4 linked regions of the Homo sapiens genome follow. The protein of the gene in region 2 purifies or fractionates together with the protein of the main gene of each other region. This does not show direct contact. Each region holds a gene or a part of one and is shown on either strand. Other genes may lie near its edges. The genes, in order: GFPT2, SALL2, ZMYM1 and PTCD2.

Region 1 (7,057 bases), on a different chromosome or scaffold from region 2:
CCAAAGTACAAAATTGGGAGATTTCACATAAGTAGGTGGGAGTTTTGGCTTCTCTTGACAAAATCTGAAGATGAGCAACCTGGAGTCCTTATTTCCAAATAGGGCCTGGGTGACCCCTTGGGTGATGGACACAAACTCGCCTGTTCTCCCAGTCCTTCCCAGCTGCCTCCCTCACTCATGGGACTCTGCACAACAGAGGCAGGAGCTGACCTTCCTAGGAAGAAGGGGAGGGACCTGGGGCAGTGCCACAAGGACCCAGACACGAGCACGGGCCCTGCAGAGAGGAGGGGGTGGCAGGCACGCTGGGCTGGGGCACAGCATGAGCTGGAGTGTGGCAGCATGGACCAGGCATGCATGGGGATTTGGCAGGAAGGATTTGCGCTTCCCATCCACGAATTTGTAAACTGTCCCTGTGCGTCCCATACTGCACTTAGTAATCTGTGAGGGAGAAAAAAAAAAAAACAATCACTGTGAAGAGCTGGAGAATTCTTAGTTCTTGCCAGAAGGTGAAGCCCTTGCCTTGACATCACCGTCTTTTGTCCTGGTTGGTGTGTTCGTCTCCACTGGCTGCTGTAACAAATGACTGCAAACTTACTGATTTAAAACAACAGAAATGTATTCGCTCACAGTTCTGGAGACCACAAGTCCAGAATCGGTTTTACTTGGCCCAGATCAAGGTACCTTCAGGGCTGAGCCTCCTCCAGAGGCTCTGAGGAGAATCTGTCGCCGGCCTCTCCCAGCTCCTGGGGCTGCCGCGTTCCTTGGCTTGTGGCTGTGTCGCTCCAGTCTCTGTGCTGGCTGCAGCCCTCCACTGTCTCCTCAGGGGATTCCCAAGTTCAGAAAAACCTTCTTTTTATAACTTTATGGTATAGCATCAGTAAACAGTGCTTTTCAATTGAGAGATTATTTTTGTATCTAGCAAAATTAGCTTATAAAGAGTGATTAATTTGAGGTTATAAGTTTGAGAGAAAATTCTGAAAATGAATTTCACAATAAAACAATTAAACTATTTAGGTATTTTATTTTTATTTTTAGAGGCAGAGTCTCACTCTGTTACCCAGGCTGGGATGCAGTGGGGCAATCATGGCTCACTGCATCCTTGAACTCCTGGGCTCAAGCCATCCTCCCACCTCGGCCTCCCAAAGTGCTGGGATTACAGGCATGAGCCACTGTACCTGTCCCCTTCTTTTCTTAAGATTTTTTTTTCTTTTAATTAAATATATATCACTTCCCTCTTTGTTTTTGGTGAAACTGTAAGAATGAAAGGGACACTGGCAACTTTTCTATTAAAAAATAGAAATGGCCGGGCACGGGGACTCACACCTGTAATCCCAGCACTTTGGGAGGCCGAGGTGGGTGGATCACGAGGTCAGGAGATCGAGACCATCCTGGCCAACATGGTAAAACCCTGTCTCTACTAAAATACAAAAAATTAGCCAGGTGTGGTGGCACGCACCTGTAGTCCCAGCTACTCGGGAAGGAGAGGCAGGAGAATTGCTTGAACCCAGGAGGCAGAGGTTGCAGTGAGCCGAGATCGTGCCACTACACTCCAGCCTGGCGACAGAGCAAGACCCTGTCTCAAAAAAAGAAAACAAAAAAAAAAAAAAAGAAAAGAAATGTCCTGTCCAGGTTACCACAGGAAGCAGAGTCTATTATCTCATGGATTCCAATGGTGAGGTCACTTTAACTCCTGGGGTCCCAAAGAGGCCTGGGGCAGTCTGGGGCTGTCTCCAGGGGAGCCAAGTCCCCTTCTTACCCTGAGCCAGGTGCCGCGTCTGCTCAGGGCCCCCGCCAGGCCCGCAGGCTCCTCTGTCTTTCTGTAAGAGCCTGGCGTGGGATCACATGCATCCGCGGCACCTCCAGCTTTGATCTTGTTTCTGCAAGGAGGTGGCAGGAATTGTCATCCCTGCTTCACCAAGTGACCTTTCCCAGTGTATGAGAGGCCACAGCTCCTCAGCAGCCCTTGCCCAAGGCCCAGGGGACTCTCCACACCTGTGGGCCTCACCCAGGAGAGTGGACCTGTCCCTCTTCCCCCAACACACACAGGCAGGCCCAGGCACACACGTGCACACGCTCGGGAATTTCACGAGCCCTCATTGAGGCAGACATTCAACTGGCCGTACTCTTCTGTTGAGGCAGGAAGTAATCCAGTTTGGGACCTGGGATGATACCTAATCTCTAGGAGGCTCATGGACTATAAAGGTCAGCCCCTTCAGTTCGGAGAAGCAACAGATGGTGGGAGAAAGACAGATCTCTGAGGGGTGAGTCCTGGCCTGGGTGGGTGGTGACATAGCTTCCAGAGCCAACCTGTCCTGTGTGGAGCACTGGCTGGGCCTCTCCCTGGAACGGTCCCCTCACTCAGAGTGAGGGCTGGGCTTTCGTTGGGAAGCCGATGCTTGGAAAGTTGGAGAGATTTTTCAAAACAAGCGTCACCAGAATCAGAACGTGGGCCCAACCTGGCTGCTGCGAAGTGGTGTCTTCCCCATCCCCCAGGCCGCAAATCATCCCTCCCCTCCACCCCCACGCTCAGCACTCCAGGGGCTGTAGAGGAAATCCCAGGAATTCAGTGCCCTAGTGTGGCTGACCTTCTGGCTGGGTGTCCAGGGAATATCATCTCCCTGCGCTGGCCATTGTCGTTATCTGTCACTTGGGGGTTGAACCCTGAGCTTCAGAGGCCCTGCCTGCGTGCCCCTTCATGATGTCTTTGCTCCTGACTTCCTGTGTGATCTCTCGGGCCTTGTGCAGAGAAAGTGCTGGAAGCCCCAGAATATAGCAGTGAGCCGGGGCCAAGAGGCTACAGTCTCCTCTCGGAGGGCTCATGTCGAATCCCTTCTGGAATCCCCTTGAGTTTTTCTCGGTCCCTCTCCTTCTGGGACCTTTCCCGGTTCATTTTATCTATCAATTTTGAGGATAGGGCCCTGAAAGGCTGTCTGGAAGCTCTGGGTGGGTGACCACAGGGCACATGACCAAACTGGGTGGTGGGGCCAGGGCAGCCTCTGCCCCCAGGCCGGGCCTTTCTCCAAGCCACCTGGGCTCTCCTGCTGGTAGGAAGGATGCTTGGCCCAGGGCCATCTTTGCAGAGGTTGCAAAGTGCTCCTTTTCTTTAGAAAGATCTCCAGGCTCCTGTATCTCAGACTTTCCATAAAGCCTGCATTTTCAGGCTCTCCTGCCTTCGGCTCTCCTGGCCTCTCAATCCCAACCCTCTGCAGGCTCTTGGGAACCTGAAGGCACCTCCCTGTCCAGCCCCTCTGGGCGCTCAGCATCCCCCACCTGGCTGGGTCCATCCCCTGTCTCTTCAATGTGAGAAATAAGACTGCTCCCAGGTTTGCTAGGCCTGATGTCTGTTCCCTCTCAGTTCTGCAAGGAGATTTCCAAGCTAAGAAGAGTAACAGAAAGGGGAAAACTTTCCCCCAAAGAAGTTTGGTGTTATTTACTGCCCCGTTCTCAGCTCATTTAAAATCCTGTCGCCTGCCAGTGATGCCTTTCTTACGCCGTGGGCAGCCCTGGGAGTGGAGGCTAGGAAAGAGCAGTAGATCAAGGTAGAAAGTGACAGATGCCTTGAAAAGGGGACGGAAAGTTGGAAAAAGGGGTTCAGAGGAGGGAAAAGATCTTCATCTGGGGTAGGGGGTTGGAGAAGGCATCACATGTGCATAGGCCTGGGGGCCCCAGGGGCGCACGCACTGGGCTGAGGGCACCCTGCAGGAGTGGGACCCAGAGGGCGGAAGCTGCAGGGTGGCATGGGGAGCAAGGCGGGCTCAGGCCAGACAGCAGGAGGGGTTGACGTCACGCGGTGGGCCCGCGGGGCAGAGAAGACGAGAGAGGGATGTAGCTGGAACCTGCCTTGCCGTGGTCACCGAGGCCCTGGTGGGGTGGGGGCTGAACAGGAGGAGAAAGGTGGAGTTGGAAGCTGGACTGTCCCGTGGTGGGGCTTGGCTCTCAGGGGGCAGCACCTGTCCTGGACCCATCTGGTGCTAGGCGGGCATCTCCTCAGAAGCCAGGGACCCTCTGTGTGAGCTATACCTTTCTTCTTGGGATAGGTTTCTATGCTGATTGTGGGGAGGTGGGGGTAGAAGTGGTGAGCCCAGGCTTGCAAAAAGGCAGACCTGGCTGTGAATTCCTCAAGTCTTTGGCAGTGGAGCCTCCGATGCCATCTCTATCCCTGGGAACCACAGTCTCTTCACACAGGATGTCATGAGGATTAGAGGAGGTGAAGCTCGGGAAGGGTTGGCATGCGGGGAGCCACTGTAGATGGTGGTTTACCCAGCAGGGTTCTGGGAGCCTTCCCTAGGCCCTGGCTCATTTGATTAGAAGGCTGTCCTCATGCCAGTCCTGGGATCCTCATGGTGCATGGGGCCGGGGGTGTTGTGCGGGGGGATGTAAGCCTCTGTGTTTGATTATCTTGGGGTTAACCGAGAGTTCTGGTGGCACCGTGCTCCCATTGTAAGGGTCTGGCACTCAGGGACCTCCTGCCTCTGTGTCCCTCTTGTCCTTGCTGTGGGTCCCAGTGAGCGGAGCTGCTTATGCTTGGCTGAACGTGGCTGTCTCAGACCCAGCTCAAAGGCTACCTTCTCTGGCATTCCTCCATCTGTTCATTCATTCACTCAACATGGATTTATTGAGCACCTAAGATGTGCCAGGCCCTGGGCCAGGTGCTGGGGACTCAGCAATGGATGAGACAGATGTGGTCCCATCCTCCAGAAGGTTACAATCCAGCGGGGAGCCGAAGAAAAAGACAAGGAAGCAAGTGCAGCGTGGAATAACCAGGGCTATGTGGCTGGAGAAGGTGGTGGGAAAGATCTGCTAAAACCTGCAGAATGGGTCAGAGGCGCCTTTGCGAAGAGCTAGCAAGAGCCAGCCTTGCAAAGAGCTGCCTACTCCCACCCCAGCGGGAAGCCCTTTCCCACCTCCCCTGTGGGCTTGGGAGGTCCCTGTGCATCCCTGTCCTTCCCTGGAGCGCTCAGTGAGGCCCCCCGATGGGTCCATCCCAGTAGCTTGCAGCACCTAGTACAGCAACGCGGCCTTGTGGGCCTGAGAACTGCTTACAGATGAATTAAATCTTGACCAAGCCACAACCAAGTAACGCATTTGGTTTAACCATTATTTCCCCAGGCAGAAGGCCAAGATGAAATGACAGTAAATGGTACTATTTCCCCCTTGGTTTTATTGAATGATAAATCTCTCAAGGGATAATTTCTCAAGCTCCTTGCCCTGTGGCAGGCACTATTGTAGCCATCACCCTGTTTCACTGACAGGGAAACTGAGGTCCGAACATTCAGTGGCTTGCTGGAGAGTGCACTGAAATCAAGGGGTGGAGCTGGGGTTCGAGGTGGGTTCCGGCACTGGCCACGGCCTCTGTGCTTCTGGGTATGCCTTGGCTGGTGAATGGCAGCAGCAGGGAGGAAGCCAACCCAGGCGGGTGGCCCTGGGCTGGTGTTTTTAAGGCTGGGGCATGTGCTTAGGTTGCCCCTTATTACAGCCCTCTTATGGCCGTTGCTCTTCCAGGGGAGTGGAACAGGGGACCAGCCAAGTCAGGTGGGCCCGGCCCCTCTTGTCGAGGGGCAAGAAGGCCTGGCCAGGGCAGGCCTGGCGTCCCCTGCAGAGGGAAGGGCCATTGTGGCCCTGGTGCTTCGGACATGCCAGGAGGGTTCAAGCACCGGTGGAAAGCAGAACCAGCCAGAGGTCCGGCCTGGCTGGGGGTCCCAGGTGCCGCACGGTCACTCCTCCTGTACCCAGAAGCTCTCAGGTCCCACTCAGCAGAATGCCTGTGCCACAGGAAATCCAGGTGAACCAGGCAGGTCTGCGTCATGTACACCACTGTCCAAACAGTCGGTCCATGTTAACCCTCAGGCCTTGGCTAGGACATCCCCCTGTGGATAGAATGAAGTCTTTGCTTATTTAGACATTATCTGGCATCTAGATAATGGTGATGTACTCATCACCACCTAATTCACATAGGGGCACATGTGCCATGGCACACGGTGAAATGTCTTAACCATCTAAAGAGGACACGTGCAGTGGAAAGGAAGTTTCTGCTCAACATCCAGTGACCTCAGAGGCTACCTTTGACTGCCCTCTGGGCGTGGTGCCCTTCTAGAAATGCTCCATGCTCCTCCCCCAGCCCTTGCGTAATTTACTCATATTCTGCAAGCTTCTTTTTCCCTTGACACATCTTGGAGATTTAAATTGCCTTCCAAGAGAATGCACAGCTTTCCCTTGCTCTCTGTTGAGGGCTGCCTGTAAAAGGCCCTGCTGTGTGGCTGCACTGTCCCTTGCCTGTCCCTTGCCTGTCGCTTGCCAGACATCAGACTGTCACTAGTCTTTGGCAACCACAAGAGCCCTGAGCAGCTGTCCTCGCACGTGTGCACATGCATCTCTGCAAAAAGTCCGCTGGATACCTTCTTAGAAGCCCAACAGCTCTGGTCCACAGATGTGTACATTTTTAATTTTGAGAGATTGCCAGATTGCTTTCCAAAGAGGGTATGTGAGTTTAAACTCTCACTGTCCAACTGTTTGATCTTTACCGACCTCATGGGTTTAAAAAAGTGGATTCTCACTGTAGCTTTTATTTATGGATGGAAGGAATTCCAAAAGGGAATTCTGATGTAAATAGCAGGAGAAATTCCTGGGAAAGGAGCTTCATTTTATTCTGTGTTTTATTTTTAAATGATAAGAGCACAGCGTGAACGCTATTTTATTCACTTGAGTGCAGTAGAGTGCAGGGAGGATCCAGCCAAGAGGATGAGCTGCAAAAGCAAAGAAACAGAGCTTCCTTCATGAAAGAAGTGACCGAAGGGATGTCACTACGCAAGAGGGCTCGTGGTGAAAATGAGATTTATGCTTTCTTGCGCCAAGATGGTGAAAACCACACTCCTTGGCAGCTTTTCTCACTGCAGTCAGCTCCCCTGCTGTGCCTGAGTGGGCACCGGGCCTCCTGGCTGGGTACGGACACAGCTGGTGGTCCTGAGGACAAGGACCCCTTATGCCCCCGCTGCTGTCCAGGAGGCTGTCGTGGGTCTGAAAGTCAGCGGTGCCTTGCGGAGCGTGCCGAACGTTCTCG
Region 2 (2,767 bases):
GGCAATATCAGTGAGAGGTGATTCAGAAGAGGCATCTGGGGCAGAGGAGGAGGTGGGGACAGTGGCGGCAGCAGCCACAGCTGGGAAGGAGATGGACAGTAATGAGAAAACTACTCAACAGTCTTCTTTGCCACCACCACCACCACCTGACAGCCTGGATCAGCCTCAGCCAATGGAGCAGGGAAGCAGTGGTGTTTTAGGAGGCAAGGAAGAGGGGGGCAAACCGGAGAGAAGCTCAAGTCCGGCATCAGCACTCACCCCAGAAGGGGAAGCCACCAGCGTGACCTTGGTAGAGGAGCTGAGCCTGCAGGAGGCAATGAGAAAGGAGCCAGGAGAGAGCAGCAGCAGAAAGGCCTGCGAAGTGTGTGGCCAGGCCTTTCCCTCCCAGGCAGCTCTGGAGGAGCATCAGAAGACCCACCCCAAGGAGGGGCCGCTCTTCACTTGTGTTTTCTGCAGGCAGGGCTTTCTTGAGCGGGCTACCCTCAAGAAGCATATGCTCCTGGCACACCACCAGGTACAGCCCTTTGCCCCCCATGGCCCTCAGAATATTGCTGCTCTTTCTCTAGTCCCTGGCTGTTCGCCTTCCATCACCTCCACAGGGCTCTCCCCCTTTCCCCGAAAAGATGACCCCACGATCCCATGAGCCTGTTTTTCTGTACCTGCTGCTCTTTGTCCCACAGAGCAGAAACAGCTTCACAAAAGGACCTCCCAGAGTTATGAGCCCTGATTTTGTCTTTTTCTCTAAGTTCTTAACATGTTATGTCCCTAGTGGCTTTTCTGTAGTCCCTGAGCTTGGAAATTACTGTGCTTACAAGGGGATGGCCCCCTAAGGAATTTTTCTTCCCTCCTCATTCTTTGTACCTGAGGAACATAGATTCTCTGCAGCTTTCTCAAGGGGAACCCTCTCCAGCTTCCCTGGTGTGACCCTTCTTCCCCCTCCTCTCTCCTCTCCCTTTCCCTTTGGTAGGTGCACCTGAGCACCTACATTTGGCATTGCAGCCTAGCCAAAAAGGGCTGGCAGCTGTCTCTGGAGGGCCCAGTGCCACTCCTCTGGGGTGACCTTTCTGCTCAGCTGGTGGGTATGGGTCCCCTATCTTTCTAGAACCAGTATGTGGCATTCCTGTCAAATGGCCTGCCCATGAAGCCCTGGAATTCCAGCTCCACCTCCACTACCACTCCAAGCCTGGCCCCACCAGTGCTGTTTGGCCTAGGAACTGTGGCTGGGAAGGTGCCTCCAACAATGGGATCCAGGGAAGCCAAGGAGAAGACAGCCCCCCTCCTATTTCAGCCTCCTGCACCCAAGGCAGTGCCTGAGAAGCCCATCATAGACAAGAAGTAGCAAACTGTACATTCCTTCTTCCTCCCCCTGCTCCAGAAGGTGCCGGTACTGAAGATGCTCCAGTAATTGGTGACCCAACCCTAGGAAGTAGGGAGAAATGAAGGAAGGGCATAGGAAAATTTTCCCAGTAAATCCCCTGATGGTCACATTAAGGTAAAGGTTTTGGCTGGTCAGTGTGCCAAGACCTCTCCAGCTTCTCATTCATGATGACCTCTCAAAGTTGGGAAACAAGCTGATTTCTTGCCAAGAGGTCTCCCAGGAGATATTTGGGAAATGTGAAGTTCGTATCTTTAAGGAGCATTTTTGGTCAGCATGGTTGATGAACTAATGATGAGAGAGTTAAGGAATGTTGCTAGAACATAGGGCTTGCTGGTACCTATGTGACTAAGAAAGGGACATGATGTAAGGGAAAAGGCCTCAAATTCTTGTGAATGTCTGGACATTCTCGTTAATATTCTTTTGGGCTAATAGTGACATAGTGTGCAGAGGTGTACCAGGGATCATGGGGGATTTCCTAGCACTAGTATGCTTCTAGTTTTAGATAACTCCCTCCTTTATTCCCTGGCCCCTTGTATTTTCCTTATCTTCCTCTTTCAAGACCCCTACCCATTTTGCCTATCCGTAGGCTGGGGCTTGTGTCTTTGTCATTGTCTGGTTCTTAAGAGTCCCAGACTTTGGGAGACCAGCTCCAGGTGGCGTCCTCCCTGCCTCTCCGTCTTGTAATGAGTTGTAGTATTTACTCTTAACATAGGATCATTTGGAACAGGAGTTCTGAGGAGGAGAGAGTGAGGGTTTTGCTATTGACTGACTTGAACGATGGCTTCTCCTCAAGCTGTAGGCTCCAGAGCTTCCTAACCTAGTAAAATGTCAAGAACAGACGGGAGATATTAGTGTCTTTCCCTCTATCATTAAAGGTGTTTTAACCAAATATTTATGTGTTTCTCCTTATTTCATGATTACATAGCCAGCTGGGGTGTGATATGGGCATTCCCCAAAATTGAGATTCCCTTCCCACCTACATCTCCTGCCAAAGCTGAACATATGGTGTTGAAATATTTACTTTATTCAGCCTTGTCCTAAGACAACCTTCAGTTAATGTAACTTCTCTGTGGAAATTGTTCCCTGTGGAGTTTGTATTTCCAAAAGGTAGGCATTTGCCCACTGTGTCCAGTCATTGTCTAGATTTTCTCTACCTAGAACCTTCCACCACCAGGCTTTTCTGTGGGTTTTGTTTGGAGGTTGGAAACTGTTTCTTTTCCGTCTTTCTCAAACCACAGATCAGCCTTCTGACATCAGCGAATCTGTAGAACCAAGGTGAATTAAACTTTATGATCCTTGAGATCTGATGTCATAATCAGAAAGAAAAAAATGTAATTCAACCCTAATAATTTCTACCAACAAGACAAAGGAGGATTCTTATCATTAGGA
Region 3 (6,032 bases), on a different chromosome or scaffold from region 2:
ATTGAAGCCCTCAGATGAAATGATTGAGACTACGAGTGATTTGGGGAAGACAGAGCTTTTCTGCTCTATTAATTGTTTCTCTGCATACAGTAAAGCTAAGATGGAATCTTCTTCAGGTAATGTTTGTTTAGCAATTGTAGGGGTTTAGTAATTATTAATAAATAATATTATTTGACTTTAATTTATAACCTTGATTCATTTTCAAATTAAACCGACTTTTAAAAGTCAAAACAATCTAAACTTGTTGCAAAGAACTGTTTTTCAGTATTTTTGTATAAAAGGAAGGCTACTTTACCACCAGAGATTTAATATTTGTAGGCCAAGCACGGTGGCTCATGCCTGTATTCCCAGCACTTTGGGAGGCCAAAGTGGGCAGATCGCCTGAGGTCAGGAGTTTGAGACCAGCCTGGGCAACATGTTGAAACCCCGTCTCTACTAAAAATACAAAAAAAATTAGCTGGGCGTGTTGGTGGGTCCCTGTAGTCCCAGCTACTTAGGAGGCTGAGACAGGAGAATCATTTGAACCTGGGTGGTGGAGGTTGCAGTGAGCCGAGATCGCACCATTGCACTCCAGTCTGGGTGACAGAGTGAGACTCCATCTCAAAAATAATAATAATAAAAATTAAAAGATACATGTCTTTTTTTAGATTATTTAGTAAATGAATATATGTATGTTTACATCAATATATATTGAGCACCTACTGCAAAACATGGTACATAGGAGGCACTTGGTCAATATAGAGTTTAATACATTTACAAGACTGCTTTTATTAGAATATAGAATGTTTTACTTAGCCCTGTTTTGTAAAAACAAGTTTTCATTACATTTTTCACATGAAATAGAAGTGATTGTAAATGCTTTAAGACTCAATAATAAAAAAGCACAAATAATCTGAGCCAACTAAGTATTCCATCAAAAAGCCTCATGTAGGACCAGTGGTGCTATTTACATAGACCATAGAGTGACTAATGCCTCTGGGATTTGTAAGTCATACAAACTGGCTTGTTACAGAAATTTCTGCAATAGTGGCTTGGGCACCAACCTAGCGCTCCATTGATGTTAAGGTTTATGAATCCTGGAAGAGTTTGAAATAGATGCCCATTAGGAGATTCAATCAGAATCTCTTTTCTTCATGAGTAATTTCACAGAAAAATTTGCTCATAATTTTAAACAAATTCTTTAAAAGGACTGGGAAATTGTGTACAAAGGTAAAAGACATAAAATGTTGGAGAAGTGTAAATTTTCAGTGTAATGTTGTAATTATAAATACGATACTAAAGAACCTGGCTATTCCTAAGCCCTAATAAAAATTACTTCAGTACCTACCAATTCCTTAAGCTATTAGATGCTTGCATTATTTCTTTAAACAGTATTACTAAACAGTACTTTCTGATGATTGATTTTGCCTTGTTTATAAGAAATCTTTTTATTGTTGTCAGTAAGTGTTGTTTCTGTGGTGCATGATACTTCAACAGAGCTTCTTTCTCCAAAGAAAGATACGACTCCAGTTATAAGCAATATAGTGTCATTGGCAGACACCGATGTTGCCTTGCCCATCATGAACACTGATGTCTTACAAGGTAAAAGTTGATGTTAAGATATTTGACATAAATATTGTTTTGTCATACTTGATAAATCTGTCTATATGCTAAATTTTCTTTTTGTTTCTTATATGAAATAAGCAAATATAGTTTATGATGCTATTTTATAGGTTATAGTATATAAGATCTTGAATTTATGCTCTATTTTAACAGATACAGTTTCTTCAGTAACAGCAACAGCAGATGTCATTGTGGATGTAAGTTTTAACTTTTTTTACCACTGTCTTTTTTTAATAAGCAGATTTTTGTTGTTGTTGTTGTTGAGACAGAGTCTCGCTCTGCCACCCAAGCTGGAGTGCAGTGGCGTGATCTCAGCTCACTGCAACCTTTGCCTCCTGGGTTCAAGCGATTCTCCTGCCTCAGCCTCCTGAGTAGCTGGGATTACCAGCGCCTGCTACCATGCCCAGTTAATTTTTGTATTTTTAGTAGAGAAGGGGTTTCACCATGTTGGCCAACCTGGTCTCGAACTGCTGGCCTCAGGTGATCCGCCCACCTTGGCCTCCCAAAGTGCTGGGATTACAGGCATGAGCCACCACACCTGGCCCAGATTTTTTATATATATATATAATATATACTATAATATATAAAAATATAAATATATAATATAAATATATTATAATATATTGTATATAATATAAATATATTATAATGTATATTTATTATATATTATATTTATATATTTAATATATATTTTATGTATTATGTATTCATATATGGGGTGTGTGTGTATGTTTGTAGATTGTTTAAACAGAAGTATTTTTTTCCTCTGGGTTCTTCTTTTAAAAAAATACTACACAATTTGAGTCATCTGAGCAATAAAAATTATTTTTATGACAATTACATACCAAAAGGTCCTTCAAACATTTAATGCTGAATCTAGATTGCAAATAAATAAGTTATACGTAATTGTTAACGTTTCCCCCTAGTGGAGCTCATACTGTAACTCAGCCATTTATTTTACTATGTTATTAGAGTAGATATATTTGATATTTTAATTAATTTTTGAAAACTGTTAAATGTTCTTTTCTCATTTTCTCCCAAAGCTTTCTAAGAGTTCACCTAGTGAACCCAGTAATGCTGTTGCTAGTAGTAGTACGGAACAGCCAAGCGTTTCACCATCTTCATCAGTATTCAGTCAGCATGCAATTGGTTCCAGTACAGAAGTACAAAAAGACAATATGAAATCTATGAAAATAAGTGATGAACTATGTCACCCAAAATGTACATCCAAAGTACAAAAAGTTAAAGGTAAATCACGAAGTATTAAAAAATCTTGTTGTGCAGATTTTGAGTGTTTGGAAAACAGTAAAAAAGATGTGGCATTCTGTTATTCATGCCAGTTGTTCTGCCAAAAATATTTTAGCTGTGGAAGAGAGTCATTTGCAACCCACGGAACTTCTAATTGGAAAAAAACCCTGGAAAAATTCAGAAAGCATGAAAAAAGTGAAATGCATTTGAAGTCATTGGAATTTTGGAGAGAATACCAATTTTGTGATGGAGCTGTCAGTGACGATTTATCTATTCATTCGAAACAGATTGAGGGAAATAAAAAGTACCTAAAGCTTATAATTGAAAATATTTTATTTCTTGGAAAGCAGTGTTTACCCTTAAGAGGAAACGACCAGTCAGTTTCATCTGTGAATAAAGGCAATTTTTTAGAATTGTTAGAAATGAGAGCAAAAGATAAAGGAGAAGAAACATTTCGACTTATGAATTCACAAGTTGACTTCTATAACAGTACACAAATTCAAAGTGATATTATCGAAATAATAAAGACTGAAATGTTGCAGGATATTGTGAATGAGATCAATGACTCCTCAGCATTTTCAATCATATGTGATGAGACAATCAATAGTGCCATGAAAGAACAGCTTTCAATTTGTGTAAGATACCCACAAAAATCATCAAAGGCTATCTTAATTAAGGAAAGATTCTTGGGTTTTGTTGATACTGAGGAGATGACTGGGACCCACTTACATAGGACTATCAAAACTTATCTGCAGCAAATTGGAGTTGATATGGATAAAATACATGGCCAGGCCTATGATAGCACCACTAATTTGAAGATAAAATTTAATAAAATAGCAGCAGAATTCAAGAAAGAAGAACCAAGAGCTTTATACATACATTGTTATGCACACTTTTTGGATTTATCAATAATTAGGTTTTGTAAAGAAGTAAAAGAACTCCGAAGTGCTCTAAAAACTCTCAGTTCTTTGTTCAACACTATTTGTATGTCTGGGGAAATGTTGGCAAATTTTCGAAACATTTATAGGCTAAGTCAAAACAAAACATGCAAGAAACATATATCACAATCATGTTGGACAGTCCATGATCGTACATTACTATCTGTGATTGACAGTCTTCCAGAGATTATTGAAACATTGGAAGTTATAGCAAGCCATTCTTCAAATACAAGTTTCGCCGATGAATTGAGTCATTTGCTGACATTGGTTTCCAAATTTGAATTTGTCTTTTGTTTGAAATTCCTGTATCGAGTGCTGAGTGTTACAGGAATTCTTTCCAAAGAGCTTCAAAATAAAACCATAGACATTTTTTCTTTGTCTTCAAAAATAGAAGCAATTTTGGAATGTTTATCATCTGAAAGAAATGACGTATACTTTAAAACAATCTGGGATGGAACAGAGGAAATATGTCAAAAAATAACCTGTAAAGGTTTTAAAGTTGAAAAACCTTCTCTTCAGAAAAGAAGAAAAATTCAGAAATCAGTAGATCTTGGCAATTCAGATAATATGTTTTTTCCTACTTCAACAGAAGAACAATATAAAATTAATATCTATTACCAAGGATTAGATACTATATTACAAAATTTAAAGTTATGTTTTTCGGAGTTTGATTATTGCAAAATAAAGCAAATTTCAGAACTGTTATTTAAATGGAATGAACCATTAAATGAAACAACAGCAAAACATGTTCAGGAATTTTATAAACTTGATGAGGACATTATCCCAGAACTTAGATTTTATCGACATTATGCAAAGCTTAACTTTGTCATAGATGATAGTTGCATAAACTTCGTCAGTCTCGGCTGTTTGTTTATTCAGCATGGTCTTCACAGTAATATTCCTTGTCTCTCAAAGCTATTATATATTGCTTTGTCTTGGCCAATTACTTCAGCAAGTACTGAGAACTCATTTTCTACCCTGCCTCGTCTTAAGACATATTTATGTAATACCATGGGACAAGAGAAGCTTACTGGCCCAGCCCTAATGGCTGTTGAGCAGGAGTTGGTAAATAAACTAATGGAGCCTGAAAGACTCAATGAAATTGTGGAAAAGTTTATCAGTCAGATGAAAGAAATATAATACATGCTCATTTGAACTTACCTAAAAGACTTGTATTTCCATTGGGATGTTTTCATTTCAAAATTGTTCAAAATTCAAAAGACACAGAACGATAAACAGTGAAGTCTCCTTCCCTCCTTTAGAACTCATTTTCTCTTCCCAAAAAGTGTTATCTTTTCCTTAAATATCCCTCTAGAGGTATTTTTCCTAAGTGGTATTGTACGGTGTATACTGTTCTTCAGCTTGTCTTCTCTGTGTAACATATTTTTGAGATTGTCCCATGTCGTTACATGAAGAGTTTCTTGATTCTTGGTCTATAATTGCAGATGTTATTGTATGAATGTACCATAATATATTTGAGCAGTCCCTGCTGACATTTTTTTCCTAACCTTTTGCTATTATAAATAATGATTCATTTTATAACCTTTTATATAGGTCACATTGCACATGAGTGAGTTTACTGTAAGCTGGAAATCTAAAGTTAGAATTACTAGGTTAAGATATGTGCATTTTTACTTTTGATAGATATTGGCAAGTTGCCATCTATAAGGATTGTGCCAGTTTACAGTCCCACCCACAATGCATGAGAGTGCCTATTAAATCTTTGTAAGTGTTATCAAATGTTTTGATCTTTCCTAATCTCTTACTTTAAAAATGGCGTTTTAATCTCAGTAGAATTTTGTATATTCACTTAAGAATAAGGTTGGGGACTGGGCGTGGTGGTTCACACCTATAATCTCAGCCCTTTGAGGGCCTACACAGGAAGGAAGATCGCTTGAGGCCACGAGTTCAAGATGAGGTTGGCAACATAGTAAGACCTCATCACTACAATTTTTTTTTTTTTAAATTAGTGAAGTGTGGTACTGCACACCCGAAGTCCCAGCTACTTGGGAGGCTGAGGCAGGAGGATTGCTTAAGCCCAGAAATTTGAGGCTGCAGTGAGCCATGATTGCACCACTATGCTCCAGAGTCTAGGCAACAGAGTGAGACCTTATCTCTTTAAAACAAACAAGAATGAAGTTAGGTATCTGTTTATTTGTTTGAGCCATTTGTATTTCCTTTTTTGTAGACTGTCCTGTTTAAACGTTAAAATCACTGCTGTGGTTTTGATTTATACATCTCAGC
Region 4 (7,057 bases), on a different chromosome or scaffold from region 2:
TAGACTAGCGTAATACTACTCTGACTCCTCGATGATTTTTAGCAGAAGGTAAAAAGTATCCTGTTTTATCATCAGCGCTTCTCCCCAAGGTATTTTAGATTCACTCATTATATGAATCTAAATCTGAAAGAAATATGAATATGAAGATTCTTAATGAATAAGTCTTTCTAAAATCTGATTTATGTGTAATCATGAGGTGTTGATTTTGTCATATATTGTCCTCTTGGTGTCTAAAGCAAAAAGAATTGGTTATTGAAAGTAAATTTACAGTAGTGATATGCAGTTCTGACTGGCAGACTGGCTGCCTGTAGAAATCTCAAGCCACATAGAAGACATCATTATCTTTGAGATTAGCCTTTTCCTAAAACTTAAACATTCAAAACCACATTTAATTTGTTTAGCCAGGTGATCATAGCCCAGGTGTACCTTTCTCAAGCTTAGAAAAGCAGAGAGTTGCTGTAAATTGTAAATGTGACTGTTGGTTGTCTGCCATCCTATATGAGGATGAAACCAGCCTCCAGGAGCACAGAGCATCACCCCCACTTCTTTCCCTTGTTCTCCTCTGGGTGGGGCCCATTCTGATGCACTTACAGATGCTACTAGACTCCTGCTGTTTCTTAAGGTGTGCTCACACTCAGTCTAGGGGTTGTTTCTAAATTTAGAGAATGATTACAACATACGTTTTTCCTCTGTTTCTTTTATTTTATGTCAGTCTGCTGTAAATTCTGTTTACTTGTTTAAATGATTGGTGTACTTCTGCACTCCAGGATTCCTGATTGTCTGAAATCTCCATTTCTCCCCCTCCAGACTGTGAGAGGACTTCGTTCTCTGTTGTGTCCCAGTACCTGGCACAGTACCTGCCATAGTCTGTGTCTGTCCTTTTTCCTGTGTCCTACCTTTTGGCTCATTGAATCATTTTCATTACCAGGTACCATGCAGAGAACAAAAATTTCACTTTGGGGGAGTATAAATTTGGACCGCTTTTTGTGAGGTTGTGTTACGAGTTGGATCTCGAGGAATCTGCAGTGGAGCTCATGAAAGACCAGGTTATTGTTTCCTAATTGTTTTCTCTGCCAATGTGTGTGTTTTTGGTGATATTGGAAAAGGCATGTCTTCTATGTACATTATTCCTGGGTTAGATTTTCAAAGAAAGGCTGCTGGGGCTGAATGAGCACATCTCTGCATTTTTAAGTTTCCTTGCAGTCAGTTTGTGTGAAGGGGGGTGGAGTAATATAGAACAAGTGTGGAGGAGGTATAGGTACAGATGATCCTACCTTGGATGTGTATCAATGTGGGTTGTACACCTGCTTTTTTAGGGGCTTTCAATAGAGAAGAGCTTAAGACAGTCTCCATTTAAAGACTGACATTCCTATCCTTTACCTGTATTCCCTCTCGATTTTGTATTTGTATTTTTCTGGTTGAAGACTACATTTGGGAAGTGCTTTTCTATTTTCAAAATACTTTCCGTCACATATTCTGACTTTCTGTTCCTAAAAACAAAAGTAAATAATTATTTTTACAGCTACTCATTGAATATTTACTATGTCTTCAGCATTGTGTTTAAGTACTTTAAATGTTTCATTTTATTTGTTTCTCACAATAGCCCTGATAAGGTAGATTTCCATTTTGTAGATAAAGAAACTAGGACCTAGAGACATTATAAATTCATTCATTCATTATGAAGTCATTTTGATTACTAGATGCCATGTAGAGAACAGAAACATCACTTTGGGGGAGTGTAAGCTTAGACTGCTTTTCATGAGGCTGTGTTTCCCATAATCAGAAACATTTGCTAAATTTTGGGGCCACGGCTGGCCACCAGGTACCTTTTTGTATATTTAGGAACTTACATAACAAGTTGAGTTGTTCTTCTGCCTCTTACTCTTTTTTTATACAAAATTTTCTCTGTACATGGTGGGCATGTTAACTCTAGACTTGCTCCTATTTAATGACACCTGTGTATTAGAAAGATACCCATAATATATTAGTAAGCAGAGAAAAGGTTGTTTCGGAACAGTACAGATAGTTTGATCCTGTTTTTTTTTGTTCCATAAGAAAAGACACATATTAACATTAACATTTTAACAAAATATAAATACATAGATACTGGAAAGATAGACACTAAATCACTTTATCTTTAGGGGGTAGAATTATTAAAAATTCTCACTTTTTACTTTATACATTTTTGTATTATTTGACTATTTTTAATAAACATATGTTAATGTTTCAGTTAAAGGAAAACAAAAGCTTCCCACTGTAATAAATCATAGCCATGAGTATGGTGATAAAAACAAAAATAAAAAAGATGAAAGCAAACGGGTTTTTTTTAGCCTGCTTGTATATGAAAAAGTCATGTATAGGTAAATTTTCTGGAGTAGAATGGACAAATTCGAGTAAGTGACATAGGACCTAATCCTGCTTCTAGCCGAACTTCTCTTGTTCCCTACTTACAACCCTGTAGTGTTGCCAGCATGGTAGCCACATGGAGTCATTGAACTGTGGCTAACTCAAATTTACATGTGCTGTAAGTATAAAATATATGATGGATTTTAATTACTTGTTATAAAAAGAATGCAATGTATGTTAATTTTTATATTGATTACATGTTGAAATTACATCTTGGATATAGTGGGTTAAATAATTTAGTCTATTTCTGTTTACTTTTTTAAATGAGGCTAATTGAAAATTTAGAGTCACATACATTGTGATTCTAAAATATCCTTGGTGACTCAAAATGCTTTTCCATTGGCTGGGGCTGCTCTGGTGGCTTTCCCTCACACTTAGAAGAAAACCCAGACCCTTGACTCTGACCTAGGGGGCCCATTGTGCCATCTCCCCTTTCTCCCTTGCTGACTTCACTCTGGACCTGCATGTTCTTCCTCAGCCATGGCGAGCTCACAGCCTCTAACTGGAACATTCTGCATTCTTATCCTTGAGGCTCCCTCCTTGACCTCACTGAGGTCTCTTCTCACAGTGCCTTCCCTGACTACCTTCCATCCATCTTCTCTACTTGCTCTTCATAGACTTTACTAATAGCTGAAATTAATATTTTTTTTCACTTGTCTTATTCACTGTCTTCTCCACCAGAATTTAAGCTCTACTAGATTATAAACCCTAGTAGGGTTTTGAGCAGGGTGTATATCCTGTTTATCATTTCTTTATTCTCAGCACCTAGAACAGGGTCTGCATAGTAGGTGATCGGAAAAGAGTGAACTTGAGCAAGGCATTTAATGACACATTTGAATACCATGTGTCCCATTATCATGGCACACAAAATGTTGAGATGTTAGCAAGATGTTGGTCAAAGGATACAAAATTTCAGTAAGATGGAATAAGTTCAAGGGATTTCTCTGTACAACATAGTGACTATAGTTAATGACAATGTATTGTATTCTTCAAAATTGCCTAAAGAATAGGTTTTATGTACTTTCACCACACAAAATGAGTATGTGAAGTAATGCATATGTTAATTAGCTTGGCTTAGCCATTCTGTAATATATACATATTTCAAAACAACATACTGTTTTTTGGGGTTTTTTTTGGATACAGGGTCTTGCTCCGTCACCTAAGCGGGAATACAGTGGCACTATTATCATAGCTCATTGCAGTCTCATAACTCTTGGGTTCAAGTGATCGTCCTACCTCAGTCTCCCAAGTAGCTAGGATTCCAGCCTTGTGCCACCACACCCAGCTAATTTTTTAAATTTTTATTATTTTTTTTAAGAGATGGGATCTTGCTGTATTGCCCAGGCTGGTCCTGAACTCTTGGCCTCAAGTGATCCCGCCTCTCCCTCCCAAAGTACTGGGATTACAGGCGTGAGCCACCACACCTGGCCAAATATATACAATTTTTATTTGTCAATTAAATAAATACATACAGACAAGTTGGAAAAAAATGTTGAGAACCACTGTTTTGGAGAATTATTTCAAAAGGCGAATAATCAATTCTGTATTATCCGTTGCCAAAAAAAGACCATAGTTGTGTGAGACCCTCCTGCCTTAGTCCTCAAGTATATTTATAGCTGCCATTTCATGTTAATAGCTGGCACCTAGTTTCCAGGACCACTCTGCCAGGGTTAACTGGCTAGTTTCTTTTCTCCTAAGCATGACAAATGACGGTTCCTTAAAGACGTCCTTCATGGTAATTATGAAACCCAGAGATCTCTTGCTATACCTCTCAGCATGACAGCCAAGAGAGTGGACAGCATTTTAACTTTTTTCTTTTTTTTTTTTTCTTTTTGAGACGGAGTCTCGCCCTGTCACCCAGGCTGGAGTGCAGTGGCGTGATCTCGGCTTACTGCAGCCTCCACCTCCTGGGTTCAAGCAATTCTCTGCCTCAGCCTCCTGAGTAGCTGGGATTACAGGTGCCCACCACCATGCCCAGCTAATTTTTGTATTTTTAGTAGAGACGGGGTTTCACCATGTTGGCCAGGCTGGTCTTGAACTTCTGACCTCGTGATCCACCTGCCTTGGGCTCCCAAAGTGCTGAGATTATAGGCGTGAGCCACCACGCCCGGCCAACTTTTCAAAAATAAAACCTGGGTATATAAAATATATTAGAGAATTCAGAAGGCCAAATGAGTAAAGCATGCAGAATAATAAGACCTGGCTAGATAAGAGACAGTAAAAGTACCTCCTCAATAAATAGTTTTAACTTTTAACCAAACTGTATTGTTCTTCTTCGTTAGCATTTACGAGGTTTCTTCTCAGACTCCACATCATTCAATATTTTGATGGATATGTTATTTATCAAAGGCAAATATAAAAGTAAGTACTGCAATTTCTATTTGCTGAAAAATTCTGCCATGTTTGCTGGCATAGGAACTAGGGGGAAAAATGAGTCATGCAAAAATGATTCTTCTGTAATCCCAGCACTTTGGGAGGCTGAGGCGGGTGGATCATGAGGTCAGGAGATCGAGACCATCCTGGCTAACAAGGTGAAACCCCGTCTCTACTAAAAATACAAAAAATTAGCCGGGCGCGGTGGCGGGCGCCTGTAGTCCCAGCTACTCGGGAGGCTGAGGCAGGAGAATGGCGTGAACCCGGGAAGCGGAGCTTGCAGTGAGCCGAGATTGCGCCACTGCAGTCCGCAGTCCGGCCTGGGCGACAGAGCGAGACTCCGTCTCAAAAAAAAAAAAAAAAAAATGATTCTTATATCCCTGATAAGTGGCTGAATTCTGGAGACCTTAGGAAGTTTGAAAACATTGCATTGCATGTCATCCCTTAAACTAAATATCCCAGATTTTACTTATGCTAAAATTGTGAAGCAGCTTTTAAAACATTAGTTCTTCCTGTTTGACTTGATAGTTTATTTCAACATTTAGTTAATTGCTAAATGACTTTGAGGAATAGCTTTTATTTTGTTGAAATACACTTTTCTGTAGATGGTGCTGAACAGATGAGAGCTTTGGGGGCCAACAGTAGAGGAACTCTAACACTGCGATCCACTCTTCACTTTTGGCAGGTGCTTTGCAAGTATTGATAGAGATGAAAAACCAAGATGTGAAGTTCACCAAAGATACCTATGTTCTTGCTTTTGCAATTTGCTACAAACTGGTAAGACTCTTTCCTCTTAACTTTGAGAGCATTGTGTGTAGTCTTTGAGAGAGGATTTTTCTTCTCTCTACAAATAAAATTCAGTTCCTCTGAAATCTGTTTTCCATCTGGTGCAAATGTTTTAATTTTAAATGTTTTTATTTTTAGAAAACTCAAGTTAGCCATATCAGGCAGTTTTATGGGAAAAGTAATTTTTTCATCTTTCACTCTTCTCTGGTGATTGTGTAGATAGTGAGAACAAGAGGCAATGTGTTGGGTTCAGGCTCTGCTTTAAAGTCATCACGCATGCTGGACTCTGCTAGATCCATCTTCCCTGTTGTCCTTGTCTATGGAAATCTTAGCTTCCTTCATTGGTGAGCTCAAGGACTACTTTGTCCTCATATGTGAAGGCTTTTGCAATCACCGAAACTGGAAGTGATGTTTGTCACCTCCAGATATCCCTTAATTTTGCTCTATTTGTGTCACCTCCCTGGTACTTCTGACACAGCTTAATGTACTTAGCAGATGCACGTTCCATTCTCTCCACTTGAGTGTGAGCTCCTTGAGGTTTCTTTGTATCCCACCACCTAACACAGTGCCTGGTATCCAGTAGTTCTTTAATAAACGTATGTGACATGAAAATGAAGTCCAAGGACAGAGACCATGACTTATACGTTCTTTTATCAATACAAAAAATTAGCCAGGCGTGGTGGCATGCACCTTGTAATCCCAGCTACTCTGGAGGCTGAGGCAGGAGAATTGCTTGAACCCAGGAGGCAGAGGTTGCAGTGAGCCAAGGTTGTGCCACTGCACTCCAGCCTGGGTGACAGAGTGAGACTCTGTCTCAAAAAAAAAAAAAAAAAAAAGTTATTTTATTATTACTGTACCAGGATTATTTCTTGCCCATAGAAACTCTTTCTTCAATGTTTAGTGAATGATCATTGAAATAGTGAAATGATCAATGTTTAATGTATTACTGTTGTCATTCGTATCACTTAAACTTTGGAAACCTGGCACACAAAACCTCTTTATACTGAAAACAAAGGAACATGAAGCGAAGTAGAAGAACATGGGCTGTTGAAAAACTCCCCTGAAGAATGTAGCAATACCAGTTTTCCAAAACAAGGGGATAGCTGGGTTATAGTGGAAAGAAAACCAAGTGGAAATTGAGAAACTTGGAGTCTAGTCTCAACTTTGGTATTATATAGCTTATATATATGACTTATATAGCTGTGAACTGATCACCTATCTCATTTTACAAATGAGATGGTTAGATTTGGGAGTCAGCAAACTTTTTTTATGAAAAGCTAGATAGTAAATATTTTAGGCTTTGGGGGCCACATATGTCTCTGCCTCATGTGATCTCTGCCCCATATTCTTTGTTTTTGTTTTTACAGGCCTTTAAAAATGTTAAAGTCATTCTTAGCTGTAGGCTACATTTAGCCCAAGGGTCATAGTTTGCTGACCTCTGGATTCAATAATTCTTTCCATTCATACCATTCTATGATTCTAGGAGGCCAAA

The links.
Region 1: the proteins of SALL2 (region 2) and GFPT2 purify together in Homo sapiens (affinity purification with mass spectrometry; 2 studies listed by BioGRID and IntAct, with this or other methods). This does not show direct contact.
Region 3: the proteins of SALL2 (region 2) and ZMYM1 purify together in Homo sapiens (affinity purification with mass spectrometry; 2 studies listed by BioGRID and IntAct, with this or other methods). This does not show direct contact.
Region 4: the proteins of SALL2 (region 2) and PTCD2 purify together in Homo sapiens (affinity purification with mass spectrometry; 2 studies listed by BioGRID and IntAct, with this or other methods). This does not show direct contact.

The regions. Positions count from the first base shown.
Region 1 is NC_000005.10:180,343,284-180,350,340, reverse strand, and holds part of GFPT2 (glutamine--fructose-6-phosphate aminotransferase [isomerizing] 2), read left to right. Parts: intron 1-7,057. UniProt on the Homo sapiens protein: Controls the flux of glucose into the hexosamine pathway. Most likely involved in regulating the availability of precursors for N- and O-linked glycosylation of proteins.
Region 2 is NC_000014.9:21,520,580-21,523,346, reverse strand, and holds the end of SALL2 (sal-like protein 2), read left to right. Parts: coding exon 1-643; 3' UTR 644-1,102; coding exon of another isoform or gene 1,103-1,339; 3' UTR 1,340-2,267; downstream 2,268-2,767. UniProt on the Homo sapiens protein: Probable transcription factor that plays a role in eye development before, during, and after optic fissure closure.
Region 3 is NC_000001.11:35,110,332-35,116,363, forward strand, and holds the end of ZMYM1 (zinc finger MYM-type protein 1), read left to right. Parts: coding exon 1-116; intron 117-1,440; coding exon 1,441-1,581; intron 1,582-1,755; coding exon 1,756-1,799; intron 1,800-2,645; coding exon 2,646-4,928; 3' UTR 4,929-5,528; downstream 5,529-6,032.
Region 4 is NC_000005.10:72,330,330-72,337,386, forward strand, and holds part of PTCD2 (pentatricopeptide repeat-containing protein 2, mitochondrial), read left to right. Parts: intron 1-928; coding exon 929-1,046; intron 1,047-4,688; coding exon 4,689-4,767; intron 4,768-5,464; coding exon 5,465-5,556; intron 5,557-7,057. UniProt on the Homo sapiens protein: Involved in mitochondrial RNA maturation and mitochondrial respiratory chain function.